Homo sapiens: one gene and its partners. The protein of the gene in region 5 purifies or fractionates together with the protein of the main gene of each other region. This does not show direct contact. Each region holds a gene or a part of one and is shown on either strand. Other genes may lie near its edges.

What was found.
Region 1: the proteins of GRB2 (region 5) and MAP4K3 purify together in Homo sapiens (affinity purification with mass spectrometry; 4 studies listed by BioGRID and IntAct, with this or other methods). This does not show direct contact.
Region 2: the proteins of GRB2 (region 5) and ELMO2 purify together in Homo sapiens (co-immunoprecipitation; 5 studies listed by BioGRID and IntAct, with this or other methods). This does not show direct contact.
Region 3: the proteins of GRB2 (region 5) and WIPF3 purify together in Homo sapiens (affinity purification with mass spectrometry; 4 studies listed by BioGRID and IntAct, with this or other methods). This does not show direct contact.
Region 4: the proteins of GRB2 (region 5) and GAREM2 purify together in Homo sapiens (co-immunoprecipitation; 5 studies listed by BioGRID and IntAct, with this or other methods). This does not show direct contact.
Region 6: the proteins of GRB2 (region 5) and DNM3 purify together in Homo sapiens (affinity purification with mass spectrometry; 6 studies listed by BioGRID and IntAct, with this or other methods). This does not show direct contact.
Region 7: the proteins of GRB2 (region 5) and LRRK1 purify together in Homo sapiens (affinity purification with mass spectrometry; 4 studies listed by BioGRID and IntAct, with this or other methods). This does not show direct contact.

What each region holds. Positions count from the first base shown.
Region 1 is NC_000002.12:39,287,286-39,290,785, forward strand, and holds part of MAP4K3 (mitogen-activated protein kinase kinase kinase kinase 3), read right to left. Parts: intron 3,050-3,500; coding exon 3,007-3,049; intron 996-3,006; coding exon 836-995; intron 1-835. UniProt on the Homo sapiens protein: Serine/threonine kinase that plays a role in the response to environmental stress. Appears to act upstream of the JUN N-terminal pathway.
Region 2 is NC_000020.11:46,382,616-46,386,115, reverse strand, and holds part of ELMO2 (engulfment and cell motility protein 2), read left to right. Parts: intron 1-2,621; coding exon 2,622-2,700; intron 2,701-3,500. UniProt on the Homo sapiens protein: Involved in cytoskeletal rearrangements required for phagocytosis of apoptotic cells and cell motility. Acts in association with DOCK1 and CRK. Was initially proposed to be required in complex with DOCK1 to activate Rac Rho small GTPases.
Region 3 is NC_000007.14:29,876,008-29,879,507, reverse strand, and holds part of WIPF3 (WAS/WASL-interacting protein family member 3), read right to left. Parts: intron 500-3,500; coding exon 368-499; intron 1-367. UniProt on the Homo sapiens protein: May be a regulator of cytoskeletal organization. May have a role in spermatogenesis.
Region 4 is NC_000002.12:26,171,763-26,175,887, reverse strand, and holds the start of GAREM2 (GRB2-associated and regulator of MAPK protein 2), read right to left. Parts: upstream 2,801-4,125; 5' UTR 2,668-2,800; coding exon 2,556-2,667; intron 2,027-2,555; exon of another isoform or gene 1,891-2,026; intron 1,594-1,890; exon of another isoform or gene 1,016-1,593; coding exon of another isoform or gene 910-1,015; intron 1-909. UniProt on the Homo sapiens protein: Probable adapter protein that may provide a link between cell surface epidermal growth factor receptor and the MAPK/ERK signaling pathway.
Region 5 is NC_000017.11:75,329,179-75,332,678, forward strand, and holds part of GRB2 (growth factor receptor-bound protein 2), read right to left. Parts: intron 1-3,500. UniProt on the Homo sapiens protein: Non-enzymatic adapter protein that plays a pivotal role in precisely regulated signaling cascades from cell surface receptors to cellular responses, including signaling transduction and gene expression.
Region 6 is NC_000001.11:171,844,498-171,847,997, forward strand, and holds part of DNM3 (dynamin-3), read left to right. Parts: intron 1-3,500. UniProt on the Homo sapiens protein: Microtubule-associated force-producing protein involved in producing microtubule bundles and able to bind and hydrolyze GTP. Most probably involved in vesicular trafficking processes, in particular endocytosis.
Region 7 is NC_000015.10:100,925,857-100,929,356, forward strand, and holds part of LRRK1 (leucine-rich repeat serine/threonine-protein kinase 1), read left to right. Parts: intron 1-3,500.

The DNA of each region.
Region 1 (3,500 bases), on a different chromosome or scaffold from region 5:
ACTTTAGTTGCTCTTTTTTTTTTTTGAGAAGGAGTTTTGCTCTTATCACCCAGGCTAGAGTGCAATGGCGTGATCTTGGCTCAGTGCAAACTCCGCCTCCCAGGTTCAAGCAAGCGATTCTCCTGCCTTAGTCTCCCAAGTAGCTGGGATTACAGGCATGCGCTACCACGCCCAGCTAATTTTGTATTTTTTTTTTTAGTAGAGATGGAGTTTCACCATGTTGGTCAGGCTGGTCTCAAACTCTTGACCTCAGGTGATCCACCTGCCTCGGCCTCCCAAAGTGCTGGGATTACAGGTGTGAGCCACCATGCCCAGCCTAGTTGCTCTTTTTTAAAATTGCTTCTTCTGGATAAACACAGAGGAGTCTTTACAGTGTTAAAATAGCACCTTCTAGTATTAATTTGGAGGCAAATACCTAGCAAATAATACCAATTATTTTTTTAGAAATGATTAAATGAAATAAGGAGTTAGGACAAGGTACTCTCTTCTAAAACAGAAGTAACCTAGACGCAAAACACATTTTCCATGTTTGTTCATAGTTTAATTTGCATTGTTTCCACACCGTAGCTAAATGAATGGGGAACCAGTCTCTAGAAGAGAGAAGGCTAAATATGAAATGAGAAATGAGGACAAAATATCTCAGACTGTGTCATAGGGAATCCTGTCATAAAAACACTTTAAGCTAGTAGGCAAAAAGCAGAAAACATCTCCATAGCCACTGCTTTCCTTCTGTCCTCCACCAAAAGAATTTCAAATAATCTCTTAAAAGAAAGTTTTTTTTCTCCCCATAGTATGAAAACCTGGTAACATATTTGCTGTCACCCTCCACCATTACCTAAGGCAACAGGTTTGTGTGGGGGTAATCTGGGAGGTGGTGGTCTAGGTGGAACTTGGGATGGCTTTGCTGGGCTCCCTGACATGGGACATCTCTTGATTGTTCCTTGATTTTCATCCTCAGTAGAATGCATTTCCTGTGGTATGAAGATAGACTTAGGCTGAAATAATATAGAAAAAGAGACCAACAATGAAACATCAAATTATTTTCCTGAAGTAAGTACTATTATACATTAAAAGCTTTCAAATTATTTCTACTATACATTAGAGGTTTACCAGATGAGTTTAAAGGTTACTCAACCATCCAATTCAGACTATCTTATTGTTTTAAATATATTCTAAAAATGTACACTAAAATGTGTACATCTCAGGTTTTGCTGCTGTGCAAATAAAAGGGCCTCTAAGTCGACTTTTTTATTAATTCCTCACAAGTCTCCCCACTTAGACTAGCCAAATAAAAATATTTTAGTCTTTCTTATCTCCTTCAATTTAAATCAATCTCTTTTTATTTCAAATATTCAGACTAGTCAAAGTTCAGCTCCGTATCAAGGCTAATCTAAGCTGTCTCTTAGATGACTCAATGTCTTTATGGTAATGCTTAATCTTTCAGACCAGGGGCATGAGAGGATACCAATTAAAATGTTATCATGTGGCCGGGTGCGGTGGCTCACGCCTCTAATCCCAGCACTTTGGGAGGCTGAGGCGAGCGGATCACGAGGTCAGGAGATCGAGATCATCCTGGCTATCATGGTGAAACCCCGTCTCTACTAAAAATACAAAAAATTAGCTGGGCGTGGTGGCGGGTGCCTGTAGTCCCAGCTACTCAGGAGGCTGAGGCAGGAGAATGGCATGAATCCGGGAGGCGTAGCTTGCAGTGAGCCAAGATAGCGCCACTGCAGTCCAGCCTGGGCGAAAGAGCGAGACTCCATCTCAAAACAAAACAAAACAAAAAAACAAAAAACGTTATCATGTTGGAGAATACAAACATAGCAATATGGGATGCCTGAGACACTTTCTGTACAAACAATGGAAAAATCTACAGTTGGCTGACGGTTTGTAGAATTTATAACGTGTCTCTTATTATTGCTCAGCACTTATTTCTTTGAAATTCAGATCTCTTTACTTCTGCTATGATAAAACTAAACAAGCAAGTACAGCATTATTTACTTGCATGAATCAGGATTTTCTCAATTGTATAAAATGAAAATAAATAAAAATAGTAATAAACCGAATGACAAGACTGATAAGACTCCAACTCTCATTTGTAACACTTTGATTTTAAACTTTAAAGCAACTCATATTATAATTAAAATTTGCTATGCATATGAACTTATAAAGTATATATTAGCTCATTTTACCTTTAAAAAAAACAACCCATCAGTTGAAATTACTATTTTAGAATGATTTTGTTTGGAAAAATAATTTTGTTGTTAAAAAGCATTTAAAAATTGTACTATTTTGTATTTTTAATTAAAATTATCTTTTGAAAATTAAATATCTATGATGATAAATTACTATCCTTTATTCATTCTTAGAAGTCAGGAATAGGTTGCAGATTTTGAGAAAAACAATCTTGTAAGAAATGTGAGTTTTCTAACCCAAGTCAAATAACACTAATCCATTAATACAATCATTTTCAGTGTAAATTCCTAGGACTTGTTACTTAGAATGAACATTAAATAAGGCCAGGCACAGTGACTCATGCCTGTAATCCCACAACTTTGGGAGGCCAAGGCAGGCAGATCACCTGAGGTCAGGAGTTTGAGCCAAGCCTGGCCAACATGGCAAAACCCAGTCTCTACTAAAAAATACAAAACTTTAGCTGGACCTGGTGGTGGGTGCCTGTAATCCCAGCTACTGGGGAGGCTGAGGCAGGAGAATTGCTTGAACCCGAGAGGAGGAGGCTGCAGTGAACCGAGATCATGCCACTGTACTCCAGCCTGGGTGACAGAGTGAGACTGTCTCAAAAAAAAAAAAAAAAAAAAAAAGAACACTAAATATAAGTTGGGCATTATAAAATGAGACAAACATAATAAAAAATCATTTACTTATATCAACTTCATGATTTTTCTTTGTGGATCACAAATGAAAAGCTAGAAAAACTCTCAACAAAGTATTAAATTGGCAGAACAATAACACACATATATCAAATTGAAAAATAAATCTGTCTACCTTTGGTGGCAAAGGAGGTGGAATTTTTGCTTTCAGAGTTGAGCTAAAAACAGAAAAGTTTAGAATCAGAACTATTCATTTTACAAATGAATCAATCCTAAAATATAATAATTTTTTCAAAGACACATAAAAAAGCTGCAAAGACAAATATCATTTTCTAAGATTGTAAGTTTTTTCTAAAGTATTTTGTGAAATGTTGCTAGAGGTATTATTCAGAAGTAACTGGGAACTGGAGGACATTATGTTAAGTGAAATAAGCCAAAACAGAAAGTTAAACACCGCATGATCTTACTCATGTGGAAGCTAAAAAAAAAAGTTGATCTCATAGAAGTAAAAAGCAGAACATAGGATACTAGGAACTGGGAAGGGCAGGGAAAAGGGGACGAAAGGGAGAGATTTGTTAAAGAATACAAAATTACAGTTATGTAAATACTTACAGTATGTAAGTATTACTACTCTCTTATACCACTGTAGGATGACTATAGTTAACAATA
Region 2 (3,500 bases), on a different chromosome or scaffold from region 5:
AAAACCCTACACCTCCCTCCCTTCACTTGTCTGTCCTCTTTTCTCCTCTTATTTTAAGTCTTCCAATCCTACTCTCCTTTGCTTATATTCCAAGCTGTTGGTTGGCTTCTTCATTCATCACCTCTTCCACACTCCTGCCAGAATTTCTCCCATCATTCAGACTTGATCATGTCATGCTCCTGCCCAAAATCCTCTGTAACTCTCTCTGCCCCTTAGGTTAAAATGAAGATTTTCCCAGTCTTCCCATACCAGGGTGGTACCAGGCAAAATTAGATGCTTTCTCACATGGGCCCAGTAGTCTCTGTACCTATGATAATTATATAAAATACTGGATTTTTATTATCTGTTGCCCATTTTGAACATAGAGCCCCCTTGAAACAGAGACCAATCATTGTTGTATCCCCTGTTTTGATTTAAGTAGAGGCTCAATTAGTGCTTGTTGAATGAATGCTCACTGAACCGACGATGCACTGTGGGTGATTTGTAAGAAATATCACACAGGTGTGAGTTTGGAATATCAGTTCAAATCCAGGCTCTTCTGCATACTAGGTCTCTGCCATCAGCAAGTAACCTAGTCTCTTCTGGCCTCAGTTTCTTCATCTCTAGAATAGGTTAATCACCTTCACCTCTCACACTGTGAGGATCAAAGGAGATTTTAAAAAGGTCCAGCATAGAGGCCAACCTGGGTTAGGTATTCAGTAAATTCAGGGGCTTTTTTCCTTTGTTTGTTTGTTAAGACTCTTATCACATCCTAAAACATTTTACCAGATACTGAGACCATATGACAAATGAACCCATTGGAGCAATGTTTCTCCCGTCTCCGCTGTTTTTACCTCACTTCCAACCAACCTACACCATGTAAGGAAGCTGGACTTTGCAAAACAGTGGTGGCACTCCTGTTGATTCTCTTCTGACTGTTGTTCACTTCTGTTTTTTAGACATTGTCAGAATGTTGCCAGAATCCCCCACCAGTTCGAGGGGAAGTCATAGCTCCCAGATTTGGGAGTTTATAGTGGCCCTGTCTTCACTCAGCTATGCTCCCAACTTGTTTTTCCCCACTAATCCAAGTAAAAAGAAAGCACAATTATTTCTTTGCAACTCTGATTTCTCCTTGTCACTTTTAAGGAATTTTCAGCCTCAGCTTTCTTTGCTTTTCTTTTTTGAGACAGGGTCTCACTCTGCCGTCCAAGCTGGAGCGCAGTGGCATGATCATAACTCACTGCAGGCTCAAGCGATCCTCCCCATCTCAGCCTCCCGAGTAGCTGGAATCACAGGCACACTCCACAACACCTGGCTAGTTTTTTTTTTTTTTTTATTTTTGTAGAGACAGGGTCTCGCTGTGTTGTCCAGGCTGGTCTCAAACTGTTGGGCTCAAGCAGTCCTCCCACCCCAGCCTCCTGAGTAGCTGGGACTACAGGTGTGAGTCACCATGCCTGGTCTAGCCTCAGCTTTCATACCCAGCGAGCCACCAAGGTTGATTAAGGTGAGAGGGACATTATAAACTCCAGATAGAGAATTCTGATTTTCCTGTAACCTCACATCTACTTCTCTGGTTTTTTTTTTTGTCTCTGAATTCAGAGTGGCCCCAGTTGCCTCCCTAGGGATGATAGGGGAACATGGCATTTCATAGGAGCCAATACTTTCAGCCCACAGCTGTCACCAGAACTTATATGCTTTCCTTTTTGGGCTGAGGGATACTTAGTGCCCTCTGTTAGACTCCCTGGGTACCATGTGACTAACCAGGAAGCCCATCAGACCCTCTGGAAAGACAGCCACAGAATGCACCCAAGACATGGCAGGTGGAGATGTCAAGTACCAGGATTGTAAGATTCCAGAGAATGATTGTAGTTATTTTGTTTGTTCATAATAAAATAAGTTTATAGTCAAAGACTTTAAAAATACAGAAAAACGCAAAATTATTTGCCCATTATCTCACCTCCAGACATACCCACTGTTAAACATTAAATTGAATGTCCCTTCAGTATTTTTATGCATATTTTTAACAAAATCGGGATCTCATTATATATACTATGTGTACCTTGATTTTTTTTAACTGAATAATACACCTTGAACATTTCTCCATGTCAAAGATTTTTCTAAAAGGGTAGTTCTAAGTCTTTTTTGCAACCTAGACACCTTTGAAAATCTGGTAACAAGTATATACTCTCACCAGTTTGGAAAAAATACCACTTAGTTGGCAAACTACATAGAATAATTTCTGTATCATTCCTGGGGTTCACAAATACTCTAAGCTCATCCCTGAATCCCAGGTTAAGAATCTTTACCCTAAAACATGACTTTTAATAACTACTTAAGATTCTCATATGTATAAATGTTGGCTAATGTGACCATTTGGATTACTTTCCATTCTTTTTTAAGTAGTACTTTAATGAAACGCCTTGTCAGTAAATCTTGCATAGCTCTCTGATTACTGTCTTAGGATAAATTCCTATTAGTGAAATTGCTGGGTCAAGAGCATGCCCACTTTGAATGCTTTTGAGACTGAGCTCCAGATCATTATTTGCTTATAATCTGTGAGTGATTGTTTTAAACCATTTCTAAGCATCATCTTGCTGTTCAGTCTTCTAATCTCCCTCTCTCTTCTTTCTCCATTGACACAGCTCCAACCAGGAGATTCAGACCTACGCCATTGCACTGATTAATGCACTTTTTCTGAAGGCTCCTGAGGACAAACGACAGGTCTGTGGCTGCCTTTTCACATTTTTCATCTGGGCTCTTCTGAGATAATTCTCACCCCATGCACTCTTTGCTATGCAGAGAGCACAAATCCAGCAATTTTCCCAAGAGTTCTTCCTCTTAGCTGTCTGGTCTGGAGCCCAGGAGGGTGGCTTTGCTAAGGAAGACCCAGGGAAGACCTATGAGGGGAAACCAGCTGGGTCTTAGATGAGAGCAGGGCCCTTCAAACTTTTTCCTCTAAAGGGCCAGAGAATAAATATGTTTGACTTTATGGGCCATATGGTCTATGTGATAGCTACTCAACCTTGCCATTGTAGCCAAAAGCAGCCTCGGCCAGTAGGTAAATGAATGGGTATGGCTGTCTTCCAATAAAATCTTATTTACAAAAACAGGCAACAGGCCTAATATGGCCATAGTTTGCCAACTCCTGGGTTACAGAATCAAGAATAAGGAAGAGGAGACCCTGTGGCTACCCTGAGTCCAAGGAGTCCAATATGAATGGGATTTCACACTAAATCTTAGGTTTAAAGGTTCTCTGATGGAGATTCTAAACATCTTCCTTCCCCTGTTCATTAACTGTGACATTATGCAGATAGCTCTGCCTCTGTGAACCTTAGTTTCCTCACCTGTCACATGGGAGCAACAACATCTGCCTTGTTTACCTCACAAGGATGTCTGAGGAAAAACAAGATCCCTGTTTCACAAATAAGGAAACTAAGAATCAGCTGGGTGGTGGAACAAACACTGACCTAAGAGCCGAGGGGCCTGGGACTAAGTATTCTCCCTGCTGCTGGCTGGACAAG
Region 3 (3,500 bases), on a different chromosome or scaffold from region 5:
ATGCATTGCTAATGCATCCACAGTGATGTCACTATGAAGTTCTATTACAATTTGGACCTTCTGTTTATATACACTTTGCAGTCTGGGCTACCATCACGCCATCACTAAGTATTACACACTATTACAAGTCATTTTTAAGCTATTACAATGGAATAATTTAAACAGGATGATGAATTAAAAGATTTCTCAAGAACCATTTTGTACTTTGGAAGTTTCTAGTGCTTAAGGTCCCAAGAACATGATCTTCTACTCTATCATGCCCGTTCAGTAAAACCATGTTGCTTACTGGCATGTGTGGATTGCCCAGATGGTTCCACAAGTTAAGGAGATACAGACCACAAGGGAGCCAGAATGAATTCTTCCTTACCTGCTACATCCCGCTGGCCTGCTGGTCGCAATACAGGAAAGCCACCAGCAAACAGATCTCCCAGGGTGGGAGGTGTGCTCGCGCCTCGTGTGTTTGCAGAACCTCCTCCTTCTTTGTTGGTTCCTTTAGAACCTTTAGAGAGAAGACACAAATAGGCAAGGACTTGAGAGCAGAGCTGAGCAGCCAGGTCTCATTTCAGACCATGGTCTAACACTGGTCTACCACTGCCCTTGTCAGCCTTCCCATTCTCCCACCTCCAATGTCATCCTTTCACTCAGCATCCTCCCCAAGCACCCTCTGCCTTGATACCCTGTAGACTCACATGCCCTGCCCTCTCCAGTCCTACCAAAGAACTAACCATCTGTGCCCAGCTCCCCTGAAAAGTGACCAAAACAAAGGGACCTGAACACTGCCATTTTGTAGATGCTAACAGAGCAACTGGCAGCACCTTCGAATTAGAAAACCCAAATGTGGTAGGTGTAGAGCTGCTCTTATTTTCAACTTGGCTATGGAGGACTAGACAAAGAAAACCCACAGATTTAATTCAGTCAGTCATTTTAACTTCTTGTCCACAGAGCGCTGACCAGAACAGCAGGCAGGAGGTAAAGCCTGCCATGACTGTGCCCTGGCAGTTTCCTTCCTGTCTCTCCAGCCCTCAAGCCCCCAGCCCCTCGCACCTCCCTGCACCTTTTCATCTATGGAACGGAAAGATCATGAGCCCCTGAGGAAAGGTGTCACTAACTCCAGCCTTCCAGACATGTGTGATTACCAACTACAGAAAACGAGAAGATACTCAGCTTAGACAAGAATTCCTGGCAGAAAATATTTAACAACTTGAAGCTAATATGCACAGAGAAATTAGGGCACAGTGCCCACTGGTGGATGAAAGTGGCCAGATTATTCTGAGTATTAATATTGTACATTACTTACTCATGAGAATGATTAGGAAGTGAGTGTTTCAATGAAATTGATTTACCTGTTAATTAGGCTTAACCAATTCGATCATGGGTTTAACCAGAAACTAATTTTTAATGTACTCAATGTTGAAAATATTTCTCAATGTTGAAAATATTTCTTTAAAAATTTGTCTATCCTTGTGTGTTGACATTTATAATTACAGATAGGAGATATAATTCTATTTTTAGGACTATCTTTAAGAATTACCATCACGCACATCATAGCAAAACATAGGAAGACATAATAATACCTTACATTACAGGGTGAGTATCCCTTATCCAAAATGCTTGGGACCAAAGTATTTCAGATTTTTTTAAAATTTTGAAATATTTACATATACATAATGCGATATCTTGGGGAATGGGACCCAAGTCTAAACATGAAATGTATTTGTTTCATATGTACCTTTACACACAGCCTGAAGTTAATAAAATATTAATTTCATGCAATATTTTAAAATAATTTTGTGCATAAAACAAAGCTTGCGTTCATGGAGCCATCAGAAAGCAAAGGTGTCACCGTCTCAGCCTCCCATGTGGACAATCTGTGGTTTGTCCATTACCATCATTCCTGACACTGAATTTCTATGCTACCAATAAGCAATCATTTTCCTACACTTCTTCACACATAAGTACTTAGCAGTTAAAAATATGGCATACCATTAACACAGCAAAAAAATAATGTGTTCAAGGTAACTAAGCAACACAGTAGTATCACCAGAATACCCGGATCAGCTGTTAGACAACGGCAGCAACAAACAAAGGCAGGCTTTCAGTCTCCTGCGATGCTGTGTTTTGATTAAAGGTTACTGGACACTGGATCTCATTGTTTTAGGTGAGAAGAAACATCAGAAACCACTGAGAGACCAGGAAGTAGGTCCTCTAGAGTTGAGGCAGCATTCTGCTAGCTGGCTTTTAAAAATGTTTCCTCCAGAGTCATCTGCTTCATCAACAATGGTTTTTGTCTCAGAAGCCTCTCTCTGATTTTGTAAACTGACATCATTTCTTGTTCTGTTATGAATGTATGCTACTCTTGTCCTTCAGTAAACACATCATACATTTCCACCATGTCACCTGGAGGCACATTTTCTTCAGGGTTAACGTCATCTTCATCATTCACATGAGGCATCATGTCGACATTCAAAAAGTTTCAGATTTGGGATTTTTGGATTAGGGATGCTCGATCTGTACTAAAGAGTTCTGCATATATTATTTCAACTTTCAACAATCGACCAAGAAAAAAAAAAGGAGCCAGGTATTGTCTCCCCATTTCACAGATGACCAAACATCCTCAAAGAGGCTCCCCGATTTGTCTGGTTGCAGAACCAGAACTCAATGTGGGTCGTCTGACCTGAGCACAGGACTCAATTTACTCTGTCACATTCTAGAAGACAGCAAGCTTCAGTCATATCATCCTCTGAAACAGAATTCTTAATAAATCTTTCTCCTTGTGAAAAGTGAAACAAAAATTTTGCATTTTTTACAAAGTGAGCCCTTCACTTTCTATCACTGAGTTTAAGGACCATGTTGACACAAGGTGAGTGATCTTTAAATGTTACCCTACAAAGAATACACAAAACGTGGTGTGTCCATACAATTAAATATTCAATGATAAAAGGAGTGAAGTACTGATACATGCTCCAACATCTATGAAGCTTGAAAACATTATGCTAAGTGAAGGAAGCCAGCCACAAAAGGCCATATATTGCATGATTCCATTTCTTTGAAATAACAGAATAGGCAAATCCAGAGAGACAGAAAGTAGATTGGGTTGGCAAGGGCCAGGGACTAATGGGGAATGACTTACTAATGGGTATGAGATTTCCTTTAGGGGTGATGTAAATGTTCTGGAACTAGATAGAGGTGATTGTTGCAACAACATTGTGAATATAATAATTGGCACTGATTGAACACTTTAAAATGGTTAAAATGATGAATTTTATATTATGTGTATTTTATCAAAATTTTTAAATAGGTGTCCCATTGCAGAGTTGTTCTTTTTAGCATATGAAAAGGATGGAAGTTATGCTCTAAACCATTTGCAGATTTGGAGGGAAAGCTCTGGTTCTCTCGCCCACTTGGCCTGTCCAATGAGCAGGTCTGAGATGGCTCCATATGCATCCTGGGAAGCAGCTGTGGCCCCAGCCAGGGGTGTCTGGCTGTGCCTCACATGCCTG
Region 4 (4,125 bases), on a different chromosome or scaffold from region 5:
GAGACTTTATTGAGCAGGAGATGCTGGAGCTGTGCTTCCCAGTCAGGGCCTAGGCCCTGCAAGAAGGGCCCTACTGGGGCAGTGGAGAGGGCCCGGACGGGACTGTCCCTTATAAGGTCCCAGCTGTGAGAGCTCCCCCAGAGCCACGGGTCGCTCAGGTCAGGAGAATGACAGGGCTTAGAGCAGCTGATTACTGCCTCTCCCAAGGGCAGCCCTTCCTTTCCACCCACTGCCTTGTTCAGGGGACCTCGAAGGAGAGGGGGGGAGTCCCCAGAAACCCCCAACCCCATCTCAGAGAAGCCACCCACTGCCTTGTCAAGGGGACCTCGAAGGAGAGGGGGGAGTCCCCAGAAACCCCCAACCCCATCTCAGAGAAGCAGCTCCTTGACACCCCCTCCCCACGCCCCCTCATCCTCCCAGTTACAGGGGTGACGGCTGAGGGTTGGAGGGGTTGAGAGAGCAGGTTTAGAAGGCAGGAGTGGGAGGCCCAGCCCTGGGGCCTGGGGGAAGCTGCTCTGGGGCAGAGGTGTTGGGAGTTGGGAGGGGTCTGGGCCTGGAGGCGCCAACCCCAGCAACGGTTTCCAGGGGAGCAGGAGGGGCAGCCCAGCTTCCAGGAGGCAGAAGGGGCTGTGTCCGGGCTGCAGCTGGTGGGGAGGGTGGGGGTAGGGAGTACCTCCTTCCTTTCTCCTTCAGGCACAACTTACAAAATTTCTGCCAATCAAATGGGAAATGGTTTACTCTGATGGCTGGGGGCTCCATAAAATGTGTACATGTGGGGTAGGCGTGTGTGTGTATGTGTGTGTGTGTGTGTGGCAGGGTGGCGGGCGGTTCAAGACGCACAGGAAGGGCCTGGCCCCCACTATGTGTGTGTTGGGGGTGTTGTCTAAGCTTTCCCCTGTACCTCCTCACCTCCGGGGGCCCAAGAAGCTCTCCTCCAACTCTGCTCCCTCCTCTGAGAGCTGTCCTGGGTCCTAGCCCCATCTTCACAGCCACATGGGCACACAGCAGTAATCATGGCTCATGACCACCAACAGCTGAACCACAATAGCCCACAGTGACAGATGCTTGTCACCCAAACAACATAACTCAGTCTCCGGCCAAGGGGCCCCTCCCAAATGCACAGGCACACAGGGACCTACCCTTCAAGCCATACAATTCTGACCAGACATTCACACCCTGATGGTGACCCAGCCATAGCCACACACTGTCACACACAACAGACAGCTGGGCCATCACACCAGTTGTTCATTCACTCACCCATTCATTCAATCCATAATCTTTATTGGGCAAGGATGCCTGGTCTCAAGGAGCCCACAGCCAGGTCTAAAGACAATAAACTGACTGACCATTATAATGGGGTGCACAGTAGGAGACAAGCCAGAGTTGGCATGAGGTGGCCGGGGAGCCCAAAGGAGGCCCTACGCAGACCGAGGAGCTCAGAAAAGCTGCCCAGAAAGGGGAGATGCCAAAAAGGATGTGTGGGAAGTGGCCAGAAGACCCCAGGGCAGCGACCTCCATTCACAGGCAGACACAGTACCACACTCTGACCACTCGGCCGCGAGCCAGAGAACTAGACGCTGGCCTGCCCGACGGCGGGGCGCCGATGCTCCCCCATGAGCCTGCTCCCGGGACAGCTGACGCCCACTGTGCCCACTCCTGGCCGCCACGGAGGAGGGGCTGCCGGGCCCCACGGGGAGACGAGGAGCCTGCGGCCGCGGGCCCCATTAGCATTCATGGAAGCGAGTGTGCCAACGCGGGCCAAACCCCTATTCTTCTCACACACAAAACCCCCGGCCTGGCTGCCAGCCCCGGCTACCGCCCATCCCCCAACCAAGCAGCACCCCCCTCCCCCCAAACGGTCCCCTCGCTCCATGCAGCCTCCGGGCGTACCCTCTCGGGCCCCCATGCGTGGTTCCATCAGCCGAGCGGCTGGGGGCCCCAGGTCCTATTAAGAAGTGGGACAAGATTCGGGGGAGGGCCGGGAGTTTGGGGGTCACGCCGGGCAGCAGACCCGGCTCCCGCCGGCCTCTCCCGAAGGTGGCCTGCCCGCCCCAGGACCGAGGCTGCTCCTAGGGAAGAGAAAGGAGGTGCAAGAAGGGTCCCCAGAGGGGCGGAGCAGGACTAGGGGTGGCGGTAAGGGGAAGACAGAGTCCGGGTCCCAGGGATGAGGGAAGACAGAGGTGAGAGGCCAGGGACAAAGGGACCAAGGGGGCGCGGCCGGGGCGGGGGGCCCAGGGGCAGCGGGGGAAAGGGGGGCAACCGACGGGGCGGGAGCAGGGGCTCGGCCCCTTTCCGGACTCCAGCTGGGCGGGAAAACTCTGTCCCGGGCCCTGTCCCCGGTGTCTGTGCCTGTGCTTGTCCGCGGGGCCCAGGAGGCGGACCTGGCGGGTGGGCCCCGCGTCTCCCGGGAGGCGCGCCAGGAACCGCTCGGGGCCCACGCCGGGGAGCTGGGAGGGTGCGGGTGCCGCACCCTCCTCACGATCCCTCTGGCCCCTGGCTGGAGAGCCCACCATTTCCCCGCGGACCCCGGTCCCCATCTCCAGCGACCCCGGTACCTGGCCCAAGGCAGGCGAGCGTGGGCAGGCGGCAGCGGCTGACGATGAGGTCGAGCGGGAAGGCGCCCATGCTCCAGCGCAGGCCGGCCAGCCCGGCCGCCAGCTTCTCCATGGCATGGGCGCCCCGGGGCCGCCGTCCCGGGGCCCCGACGGTCAGTCCCGCGCGGCCCAGGCTCTCGCGCCCGCCGCCACCTCCCGGGGCCGCCGCGGCGCTCGCCGCCTGGCAGCCCCGCCGGGCCGCGGGCGTCACGTGGCCGGCCTCCCCGCAGGGCGCCGACCCCGGCCCCGCCCCCGGGCCCCGCCCCCTCCTCCCGGACCCCGGCCCCCTCCTCCCGGACCCCCGCCCCCTGCTCTGTCCGCCCCGACCCGGACTCGCCGCCGGACCCACCCCCGGACCTCCGCCCCCAGCCCTGTCCGCCCTGCCCCGCCCCGGCCCCCTCTCCTCGGACCCCGTCCCCGCGCCCCCTTCTGGGACCCCGGGTCCCCAGCCCCGCGCTCCGTCCGCCCGCCCCTGCCCCCGCTCCCCGGCCCCCACCCGCCGCTGCCGCCAAGCCCCGCCTCCCCTCCCGCCAGCTTCCCCGCGCCCAGGTGACGGCGGGTGATGGAGGACCCCAGGGCGGGCGCCTGGAGGGACAACGAAGTCCCGAGCGGCATCTGCGGAGTCGGCGCGGGGTCGGCCTCCTCCTTCTGGCTGGGTGTGTCCGGGCCCCGCCGCTCCCCCTCGTGCTGGCCTCCCGGAGGCCGCGCCCACCCGCGCCCTGTCCTGCTCCGCCGCCCAAAGCTCGGGTTCTGAATTCTGCTCTTCCAGGACCTTCATCACCTCCGGCTCCGTGGAGCTGGGCGAGGCAGCCTCCTTAACCCCATTTTACTGATGAGCAAACTGAGGGGCAGAGGTCAGGTGGCAGCCAGGACTTCAACCTAGGTTGGACTTCAACCCAGATTTGACTCCAACCCTACTGCCCAAGAGCACCCTACAGCGCCCCACCATAGAGCACCTTCCACGTTCCCAGCGCCCCCTTAGCCGATAGCCCTGTGTCATGTAAACCGGCGCTCCAACCCTTCCACAGCACGCGGTGTGGACTGCGTCCATTCTGCAGATGAGGAGGCCGAGGTTCGAGGGCGTAACCGGTGCTGCGGTCTCCTCTCGGATCATTACAAGAACCGCCTTCCTCCCCCACCGCCACCATCCCTTCTCTCTTTTCCTTCTCTTTTTTTGAGACTGGGTCTCACTCTATCACCCAGCCTGGAGTGCAGTGGCGCGATCTCGGCTCACTGCAACCCCCACCTCCCGGGCTCAAGCGATCCTCCCACCTCAGCCTGCGGAGTAGCTGGGATGACAGGCACCTGCCACCACTCCTGGCTAATTTTTTTGTATTTTTAGTAGAGACGGCGTTTCACCATGTTGGCCAGGCTGGTCTTGAACTCCTGACCTCAAGCGATCCTCCCGACTCGGCCTCCCAAAGTGCTGGACTTACAGGCGTAAGCCACCGCGCCCAGCCTTCGTTCCCTTCTTTTAATTTGCGTTTCCTTTTCTGCTGTCCTCACCTCTTCCTTCCAAGCCCCCTGGACT
Region 5 (3,500 bases):
CAATGGTGAGGGTGAAGATTCTCAATCAGCAAGGCTCTCTTTCCTCCTAGGCCCCCAAGATCTCTCCACTAGGGAGGTTTTTTCCCATTTGTAGGTATAAAATAATGAATATAAACTGAAATAGCCTAGATGTACATGAAGCAAACATAAAAAGTAAGATGCTTCCCTCAAACTCCCCAGAGGCAGCACGTGTTGGCGGTTCTAACACTTAGGTTTCCAGACCTTTCTGTCTGGTGTCACATAGACATGGCTGCTGTGTTTTCTTGCCCCCAGCTTAAAATTAACGCAATTTTATTTTCAATTAAAAAAAATAAATTGTAGTGAAGTACAAATTATAATGTTTAAAAAGTACTCTAACTGGAATTAAAACCAAAAACCAAAAAAACCACAACTCTGTTATAAGCACCCAGATCAAGAAATAAAAAATCTGGCACCAGGTGCAGTTGCTCACGCCTGTTAATTCCAGCACTTTGGGAGGCTAAGGTGGGAGGATTGCTTAAGCCCAGTAGATCAAGACCAGCCCGGGCAACACAGTGAGACCCTGTCTCTACGAAAAATAAAAAATTAGCCAGGCATAGTGGTGCACAGCTGTAGACGCAGCAACTTAGGAGACTAAGGTGGGAGGATAACTTGAGCCCAACCTGGATGACAGAGCAAGACCCTGTGAATAGCTGTCACTACTAAAACACTGAAATACCACCATTCTACATTTCTATAGCATTTTATATCATTTATAAATTTGACTTTTTAAAATGATGATATGTACATGTGACTACATGCTTACGGGTGAATTTTTTTTATTTTTTATTTTTTGAGACAGAGTCTTGCTTTGTTGAATAGGCTGGAGTGCAGTGGCGTGATCTTGGCTTGCTGCAAGCTCTAACAGGCAAATGTTTTGAAAGTCTTTAAAAAGATGGGCTTTGGGCCGGGTGTGGTGGCTCACACCTGTAATCCCAGCACTTTGGGAGGCCGAGGCGGGCGGATCAGGAGGTCAGGAGATTGAGACCATCCTGACCAACACAGTGAAACCCCATCTCTACTAAAAATACAAAAATTAGCCAGGCATGGTGGCACATGCCTGTAATCCCAGCTACTCAGGAGGTGGAGGCAGGAGAATCCCTTGAACCAGGGAGTTGGGGGTTGCAGTGAGCCGAGATCGCGCCACAGCACTCTAGCCTGGCGACAGAGCGAGACTCCATCTCAAACAAACAAACAAACAAACAAACAAAAGATGGGCTTTGGCAGGGTGCGGTGGCTTACACCTGTAATCCCAGCACTTTAGGCCAAGAGCTCGAGATCAGCTTGGCCAACACAGTGAAACCCCATCTCTACTAAAAATACAACAATTCGACGGGAGTGGAGGCACGCGCCTGTAGTCCCAGCTACTCGGCAGGCTGAGGCACAAGAATCGCTTGAACCCAGCAGGCGGAGGTTGCAGTGAGCTGAGATAGCACCACTGCACTCCAGCCTGGGCAACAGAGCAGGATTCCGTCTCATAAAAACAACAAGAACAACAACAAACAAAAAACAAAAAAAAAAAAGGTGGGCTTATACAACAGAAATAGCAAGGGCGAGAGCTAAGGGGGTGAGGGGAGAAGGCTAATTTTCCAATATAATTCTTTACTACATCCCGTAGGCTCCCATCCATATGCATTTAGTGTGAAAAGCACATATTTGGATCCACCCCTCAAGCATATACAACTCATGCTGCAGCACTAATGCCAACAATCATTTTGTAGTCTAATTTGTTAACTTGAATGCTGCATTAGCTGACATGGTGCTACATTTTATGCTTCCCTCTTCCTCCATAACCCCTGCTCCCCACCCCCACAAACAAACAAACAAACAAACAAAAAAACAGGAGGTGGTAGGATGTGGAGGAGAAGGCCTGGTACTGACCCTGACCCTATACTCATGAACATCCAGCCACAGAGCAGCCCTATACAACAGCAACTACGTCTGCAAGGCCAAACACCTACATAGGCACAAGCATGGTCTTTGTTAGCAATATGGTAGACCTGAATAAATAAGGGTTTTTAAGTTGCTAGTTGCCTTTTCAGAGCTCAGAGTGGCTGAGCACTGCCCACCCTTTGGGCAGAGTCTGCAAATAACAACACAGCTGAGCCTGTGCTGGGTGCTTCTCCATCAATTCTTCTAAAGTTCTTCATAGTGGGGACAAAAGGTCAAGGCAAGGGAGTGACTGTCCCAGTCAGCCTGGCAGTAACTACAACTTTCCAAGGAAGGTAGCCTTTCCTATCTTTCCTCAACAGTCAGATTTAAATGCCTGTGTCACCCGAAACACTGAAGAAAAATAAGAATTTCGAGCCACAGGCATGTCATATAAGAAGTGTAGTATGATGTTCTGTTGAATTCCCTTTCAATCTGAAAATATGAAAACAAAAGGGAACTGAAGTCGATGTTGTGTTTGGATCTAATGAAGGAGCCAGCAAACAATAATGGCCTTCTGCCCAAATCTGCCCACAACCTAAGACTGTTTTTTAAATTTCTACTCGATTGTTAAAAGAAAATTTTTACAAGGAATATTTGACAGGATTGTATGCAGCCCACAAAGTCGAAATTACTTGCTATCTGGCTCTTCACAGAAAAAGTTTAGCCAACCCTTGACCTACAGTTTCTTTTGAGGACGACTGAAGGAAACAGAAGTACACAAATTATGTGGCTTATATGGGACCTGGGGAGGATGTGCTGTGATCCAACAGGCCCCTCCCACTCAAGATGCGACAAGCCACCTGAAAGTCTCCGCCACCAGCTGCTGTGAAAGCAAGTGGACAATGTCCAAGGGCATTCTAGTCTGAGCGTGGAAAGCCTCAGCTCCCCTGACACACTTGTAAGGCAAGCCAGCAACTGCTTCTGTGCTAGGAGCAGGGCCTGTGAATGAGGGGTGGGTGAGAACGGGAGGACAGTGGTCTGCAGGGGCTCTCAGGGGTCCACTATGTTGCGTTATTAATAAAATCGTGACAAGGGTAGCTTCTGAAAAAAAATTAAAAATATTCACTGCTCCCAGCAGCCTGGAGGACAGCATATTTTGTTCTCTTGTAAGTAGGAACACTAAGATGGAGGGATAAACATTTATTGAGAACTATTAGATGCCAAGCACCGTACTCTGGGGATACAAAGATATTAAGATACCGTCCCACAGCATTAGCACATATAAACACAAAATCATCTAAGTACCTTTTCTAAAACTCAAAAAAAATGCAGAATTATAAAACACATCTGGCTCTAAGACATATTTAACAGAAAAAGAATTACGGACCTGCACCAACTATCGTTTTATTTTTGAAGATCACTGACAGTTATTATCAATCTAAAACATATAATATTATTGACTATGATATATTATTATATACTATTAACATGCACAATCAATATCCTTTGTTAATTCCCTAGAAACGTGAATAAAAAGTATGACATCCATCCCAGTGATCTCAATTTTAAAAAGAGTGTTTGAAACAAGGAGGTGGGTCCAACCCTTCCAA
Region 6 (3,500 bases), on a different chromosome or scaffold from region 5:
TTTTTTTGGACACCAATGAATGAATTCGGATGTGAATATGTTTACTTCATTTAGCGGTTGCTGTAAAAGCTGATTTTTGGGTGACAGGTTTGAGATTGTTATGAATAAAATGAGTCATGAATGAACCACTTGTTTGTGATTTTCTTGCTGAAGTGATGAACTTGCATATTAATGTGATATAGCATGAGTAACCAGATTGTTCTTTTGGTGGTGCAGGATGAGATATATGCTGGCAATGAGAGGCAGCTTAAGATCTAATGAATAGAATTTGAGACCTATAATCTGAACATAGGGGTTTACTAGCTGGCTTGGGTCTGCCTACTGGTCTGATTTGTATACAGAAGAATTGAATTTATTCAACTATTTTCATTATACGTATACATATATTTATAGTGCAGTGGTGATGATAATAATGGTTAACATTTATAGAGTGCCTGTTATGTGTAGGTACTATTCTGGGTGCTTTTATATGAATAATCTCATTTAGTCCTCATACAACCCCAAAGAGGTAGGTACTCTTATGATTTCCATTTTACAGAAGAGGAAATCAAGATTTAGAGAGTTTGAGTAACTCACTCAAGGATAATTTAATTTAATATAAAAACAGTGGAGCTAAGATTCAACTAGAGGTGTTGATGACCATAACCCATGCTCTAGAACCTCTGTGCCATATTGCATCCTCCATGTTGAGGTTTACCATTTCCTCTGATAAATACTTTTAACTTCTGTCTTGCTCCCTATATAAATGTTACCTATATTAATAAGAAGCTGGCCAGGCACAGTACTCATGCTTATAACCCCAGTATTTGGGGAGGCCAAGGCGGGAGGATTGCTTGAGCCCAGGAGTTTGAGACCAGTCTGGGCAACGTAGTGAGATCTTGTCTCTACAGAAAAACCAAAAAATAATTAGCCAGGTATGGTGGAGCATGCCTGTAGTGCCAACTACTTGGGAGGCTGAGGTAGGAGGATCACTTGAGTCCAGGAGGTCAAAGCTGTAAGTGAGCCATGATTGTGCCACTGCACTCCGGCATGGCTGATAGAGCAAGACTCTGTCTCAAATAATAATAATAAACAAGAAGCTACTATGTTAATGATTTTATTAATATTTATTTACATATGTTTACCTTGCCTCATTTCACAGAAGATTTGAGGTGACCCCTTAGGCAGAAGCAACATTTATTAAAAGATAAGTATTTTTCTTTGCTATATTAGACATTCTTGAAGAGAGTTTTAAAATGTAATTGGATTGTTTATTTAAGTATGTTTTTAGAGTGCATATAACTCATTTATAGAGGTGTTAAGTGAAAACTGTACTAGTTGCTAATACGCAGATGTTTTAAAATGACACGCTTGTTAGAAATATTAGTTTTTCAATGCTAATTATATAGGCAGAAGAGTCCACATTATTTTATTCTAGTCTGAGTGGTAAATAGACTCTCAATTCTGCACAAATAGAAAAAGTTTTTTGATTAATGGGGACGAAATAAAATATTTTTAAAAAGTGATTATGCTGATATTTTTCAAGAAATTGCTTCTAAGTATTATAGTTATTAGATAAATGGTGCTTACAATTAAAATGTCATAATTATTGAGAACCATACTTCATAGTTCCCAAGGTCTATAAATAAAGTGTCAAAACATGAACTTTTCTTCATGCAACAATGAATTGGTAGAACTTGAAATCACAAAAATATTTTTGCTGAATTAACATTATATAATATACTTTTAGGTTATCACAAATTCACAGTTGGTGGTACTTAATTACTACCATCAAATGAATTCCTTTTTTATTAGTAATGTCTGAGAGCAATATAACTAAGATAACTAGACTGGATAGGATATCTCTGTTTTGGAATTTACTTATGATTAACAGTTATCCAAAAATGCACTTGATTTAACTTCTTTAAGAATGAAGTTGGGCAGTCACCCAGAACCTTGGAGGAATGGAAACTTAATGTTTAGCTGGATTAGAGGGTAGGCTATTGGGTTCTCTATCAATGGAGTATACATTTAGAGTGTTAGGTATTCTTCTTAGGTAGTACCTTTTGCTATGGCTAGTAAGTTAAATTATGAAGTTTTATTTATTATTGTCATTTATTTTAGAGGGACTTCAAGTATCTAGAAAGAAATAGATTATTTTTTTCCTCTGCTACCAGAGCCAAGTCAAGAGAGTCCCAAGCTCATATGCTATATAGAATGATCCAATTTAATTTTCTGCATGGCCAAAGTTTTGCAATTTATCCTAGTCCAAGTTTGCATTGCAGTTTCTCACACTCTCTGCATTGATTTAAAAATTCTTATGGATTATGTCATACTAAATACATTTTATAAAGTAGACGGAAAAAAGGGGCCAACATTTGCTTAGCCATTATGGGGTAGCAGACATGGATTCTGCTAGATACTTTTCATACCTTCTATTCCTTACCTGTTTCCATATCCCCATGTCAATAGGGGAGAAAATTCAGGGTTGGAGAGACAAGTCATTCACCCAGGATCGTATAGCTAGCAAGCAGCCAAGCTGGGATTCAGTATGACTCCTCCTGGAACTCTTGAGAAATATGGACACATAAAACCAATGAACATGTATTTATTGAGTTCTAAGTTTACTGGGTAAGAATATACAAGAAAATATGAATACATAGAAGCTTATGTATGTATAAAAAGAGAACTGACAGGATAAAGTATGAGACAACTTTCAAATGCACATGTAAAATGAAGGTAGTCAGATATAATGCAAACTAATCAGGATAAAAAATTATAGTATGTCAATTTATTTTTACAAAAATCCCTGAAAAACTACAGTTCTGAAATTGAACTGAATATAAGTGGAAAGTAGACAATATATGCATTTCCAGTGTCATCTGGCAGCCCATATCATTTTAGCTCAAGCCTGCATGTACTGAAGTATCTATGTCAAAGCAGGAAGGTGGTGATCTGTGTCTCAGTTTCTGAGTTGACAACAAGGCATTGAATTTAGACTGTGACTTTATCACAAAGAGATACTGTATATTGGAGAGGGCCCTAGAGAAGAGCAGCAAGGAAAAAAAAAGAGATTGGAGAGATTAAAAATATAACTGGATGCAGTGAAGGTTAATTGAGAGTGGGATGGATCAGATCAAGTATTTTATAAGGACTTCCAAGGCACTAATACTTAAGGGAGGTGAATTCTATTTTCCTTTTAAAGAATAAGTCATTTAGTTAAAGGAGTAGAATAAGTCAAAGACACAAATGTCAGGGAAAATGTCCTAAAGGCAAACCTGAAAATGGAATGAATTGTTTAGAATGGGAGGAGGGTAAAGGAGTTGACACTAAATGATTTGCATTTCATGAATTAAAAATCATTTCCAACAAATTAGAGGGTTCATTAATACCATATTAATTACTCTCTCTCTCTCTCTCTGTGTGTGTGTGTGTGTGTGTGTGTGTGTGTGTGTGATCATAGGTAGCTTAGCTTTTCTTCCTTTAATAGTAGCAAGACTGGCATTTGATGACATTATTAT
Region 7 (3,500 bases), on a different chromosome or scaffold from region 5:
GAACCCTGTCTTAATGCTGCAACACTCATTCTTAAATGCTAGGCCACACTATGGGAGGTGAAAGGGTCAACAGGTTGGGTCTGAGAGGCCCACGTTTGTACCCTTAACCGTGTTAACTAACGATCGGCCACTGTACCTGGCTTGGCAGACACTTTGTTCAGTTGTTTGAGTGTTTTCACTCCATCTGAAATGTCCAGCAGCTGACCAGGGTGATGTTTCTGGAAGGTGTCGTTTCACATCCATCACATTATGAAATGGGAAACGAATTTGCTTCTTGACATTGCCCAGCACTAAATCTTTCCAGAGTGTTCAACTTGCATCTTTGTAAATTTTCTTTTTCTTTGTATTAGACGTGTGTCTTTTTTCAGTTGTGTGGTAGGAAGACCTTGCTCTGTTGGTGTGAGATCGAGGTGGCGTGGGTGATAGAACGCAGTCCCCGATTTGGGGGTAGCACCTCCACCTTTCCAGTGCACGTGAGGCTCCCTTATCCTCCTGCTGCTCCTCTTCGCAGCCCTGAGGGACGAGGGTGGGGACAGGGACCTTGGGTCTGTTTGGGGCCTGTAGGGTAGGTGACTGTGTCATCTGAAAAAGCCCACAGGAGGCGCTGCTCCCTCCCCTCCTGGTCAACAGTTGGTGATCTAAAGGAGTGCTTCTCAACCACGGCCCACACAGTCACTGGGTAGTGGCTCAAACCGGCAGGGCCCTGGCACCACCTGGACCCACTGGAGCAGCATCTTGGGGCAGGGGGGCGGGGAGTGAACAAGCATGGGTAATTTTTTCTTTTTCATTTTCTTTCTTTCTTTTCTTTTTCTTTTCTTTTTTTCTTTTTTTTTTTTTTTTTTTTTTGAGACAGTGTCTTGCTCTGTCACCCAGGCTGGAGTGCAGTAGCATGACCTCAGCTCACTGCAACTTCCACCTCCCAGGTTCAAGTGATTCTCCTGCCTCAGCCTCCTGAGTAGCTGGTACTACAGGCGTGCGCCACCACGCCCAGCTAATTTTTGTATTTTTAGTAGAGACGAAGTTTCACCATGTTGGCCAGGCTGGTCTAGAATTCCTGACCTCAAGTGATCCACCCACCTCAGCCTCCCAAAGGGGTGGGATTACAGGTGTGAGCCACGGCGCCCGGCCAGCATGGCTAATTTTTCAAAGTTCCCTAGTGATTCTAACGTGTAGCTAAAGTTGAGAATCAGGCCATCTAAATGGTTTGAGTCCCATAGAGCAGCACTTCTCAAATTATCAGGTGCACATGTCCCCTGGGGATCCTGATGAAATGCAGAATCTCATTCAGGAGGCCTGGGGCACAGACAGCCTGCGTTTCTAGGTCCCCAGGGATCCCCCGTTGATTCTTACAGGTCCCAGGGACCGGGGCGCAATGGGCTTTGGACAAACCCATCCCCACCTCCAAGCTCGTGGCAGGACAGATAACCAGAAAATGTTAAGGTGTTCCGAAAGGCCAAAGTGTGGCACTCCCCAGCCCCCATGATTCTCCCTAAAGGCCTGCATCTGAGCTTGGCACTGCTCCTTAGGAGGTGTCCTCTCCTGACTCTGCTCTGATGGCCTCTTTCCCCAGTGGGATCTCAGGAATCCCTGCTATCCCTGTTCTGTATAACCCAAGGGACACACACAAGGGCCAAGGACCCTGACGTGACCTCAGCAGCCTTCACTGTGTACTGTTCAAGGAGCTTGAAGTAGGGACAGGACAGGGAAGTGACACCCTGGGAACCCCTGAGAATGAGGGAGGTGTTTGTGCAGTGACCTAATACAGAGAACACAGAGTTGAAGAGGAGAGGAAGATAGCCTGAAACACCCCAGAAAGTTCTGTCCCCTGTTTAGCATTAAGAAAATTATGTTACATGTTAATGAATTACAATAATAACCAAATCCTCATAAGGAATCTGGTGAGAAGCTACTAATTTATACCCATACTCAGAGTTTTAAGGTCCCACAGGTGGTACCAGCAGAACTGAGCCTGTGAGCCCCAGCCCTGGAGCTCACTAACAGAAGTTATTAATTCCAGGGACTAAAGCCTACAGTGCTCCCTCTGTAAAGCCCAATTTTAACGCATTGCATGTTGGATTTCATTTTCGCAGAATATATTAATAAATGTGTACACTAAGACTACAGCCAAGGAGCAGGTAATGCTCAAAGGGTGGCGTGTGGCCACGTCTGTGTGCTGGGATTGCAGTCACTGTGCTTTGCTCATCGGTGCTGTTTATGTTTCCTGCAATATCTACACATTGCTTTTTGTTTTGTTTTGCCTTCTTTTGCATCCAGACGAATAATATTGCAAGTTATTTTTAAATTATTGTTTATTTAAGTACTGATGATTTGTGTTTAGAATCTAAACGGTAAACCTCCTGTGCTTACATCCAAAGTTAGATCTGCCTCCACTGGCCTCTTTGCCTTGAAGTCTTTCTGGAATAAATGCGGAATACTTGACTTACTATGACTGCAGCTGATCCCCCCGCAGGACTCACCCTCTGCACATGTCCCCAGAGCCTAAGCTGGATTTGTCCCATCCCACCTTCTCCTAGACTTCCTGGGATGATAGGGAGCCCTGTTTCCCCTCTCCCACCCCCCAAATCCACCAGCCTCACTCAGGGAACACTGTTCAGGCCTAATTTCCAGCTCCGGCTGAGAAAAGTTGGCCGCCAGAAGGAAAACTAACGACACTCAAAATTATGTAGGGACAGCTTTCTCATGCTTTAAAAATCCTTGGAAGATAACGTGATTGAAAACGACGACGTTCTTATTATACTTCCACGTGTGCGTTAGAAAAAGACCCACACTTTAAAAAAGAGTGTCTACTCTTGGGTGTTGGGGTAATGGTATTTTTAATTTTTTATTTGTGTACTAGGCACGCCTTTTCACACCCCCTACCTGTTGTGACTTGCGTGACCTCAGCTCATGTTTGTTTACAATGGTTAATCCTTTCAAAGCCCCTGGATGTGGGGGGCTTTGCCCAGCTGGTGTGAGGCTGGGGTCTGTGTGTGTCTGCCCTGCCGTGCGGCCCGCTGTGTGTTTGTGCAACACAATTGTGTCCCAGGAAGGTGTGTGACAATCTCAACCTCATTAGCACCAGCAGCAGTCAGCTCGCCTGCGGTGCAAGAGGAATGGTTGGAAAGCTTTGATGGGCGTAGAGTTTGCCAGCTGACAGAGCAGCTGTCAATGAGATGCTGGGCATGGGCTGCAGGACGCGCATTACTTTGACAAACATGTCATTAGATGTTCATTCTTCTGAGTATGTCTGACACCAGCCAGAGTGGAAAAACCAGTCCCGCCAGCCAAGGAGAGCTGTCCTGGAAAGTAGAGAAGTCAGGAAACTTCCACATAATTCAGGTGGAGAATACTTGGGAAGACTTCTGGATTGCGGAGGGTGGGTGGAACTTGAGCAGACATCACCCAGGCAGTGGCTCGCCCCCCCAGCTCTCTGTGAGTGGCCGTCGCTTCGGTCCTGAAAGCCCTGCCACAGTCACACACCTCTCAGAGCACTGCCCACC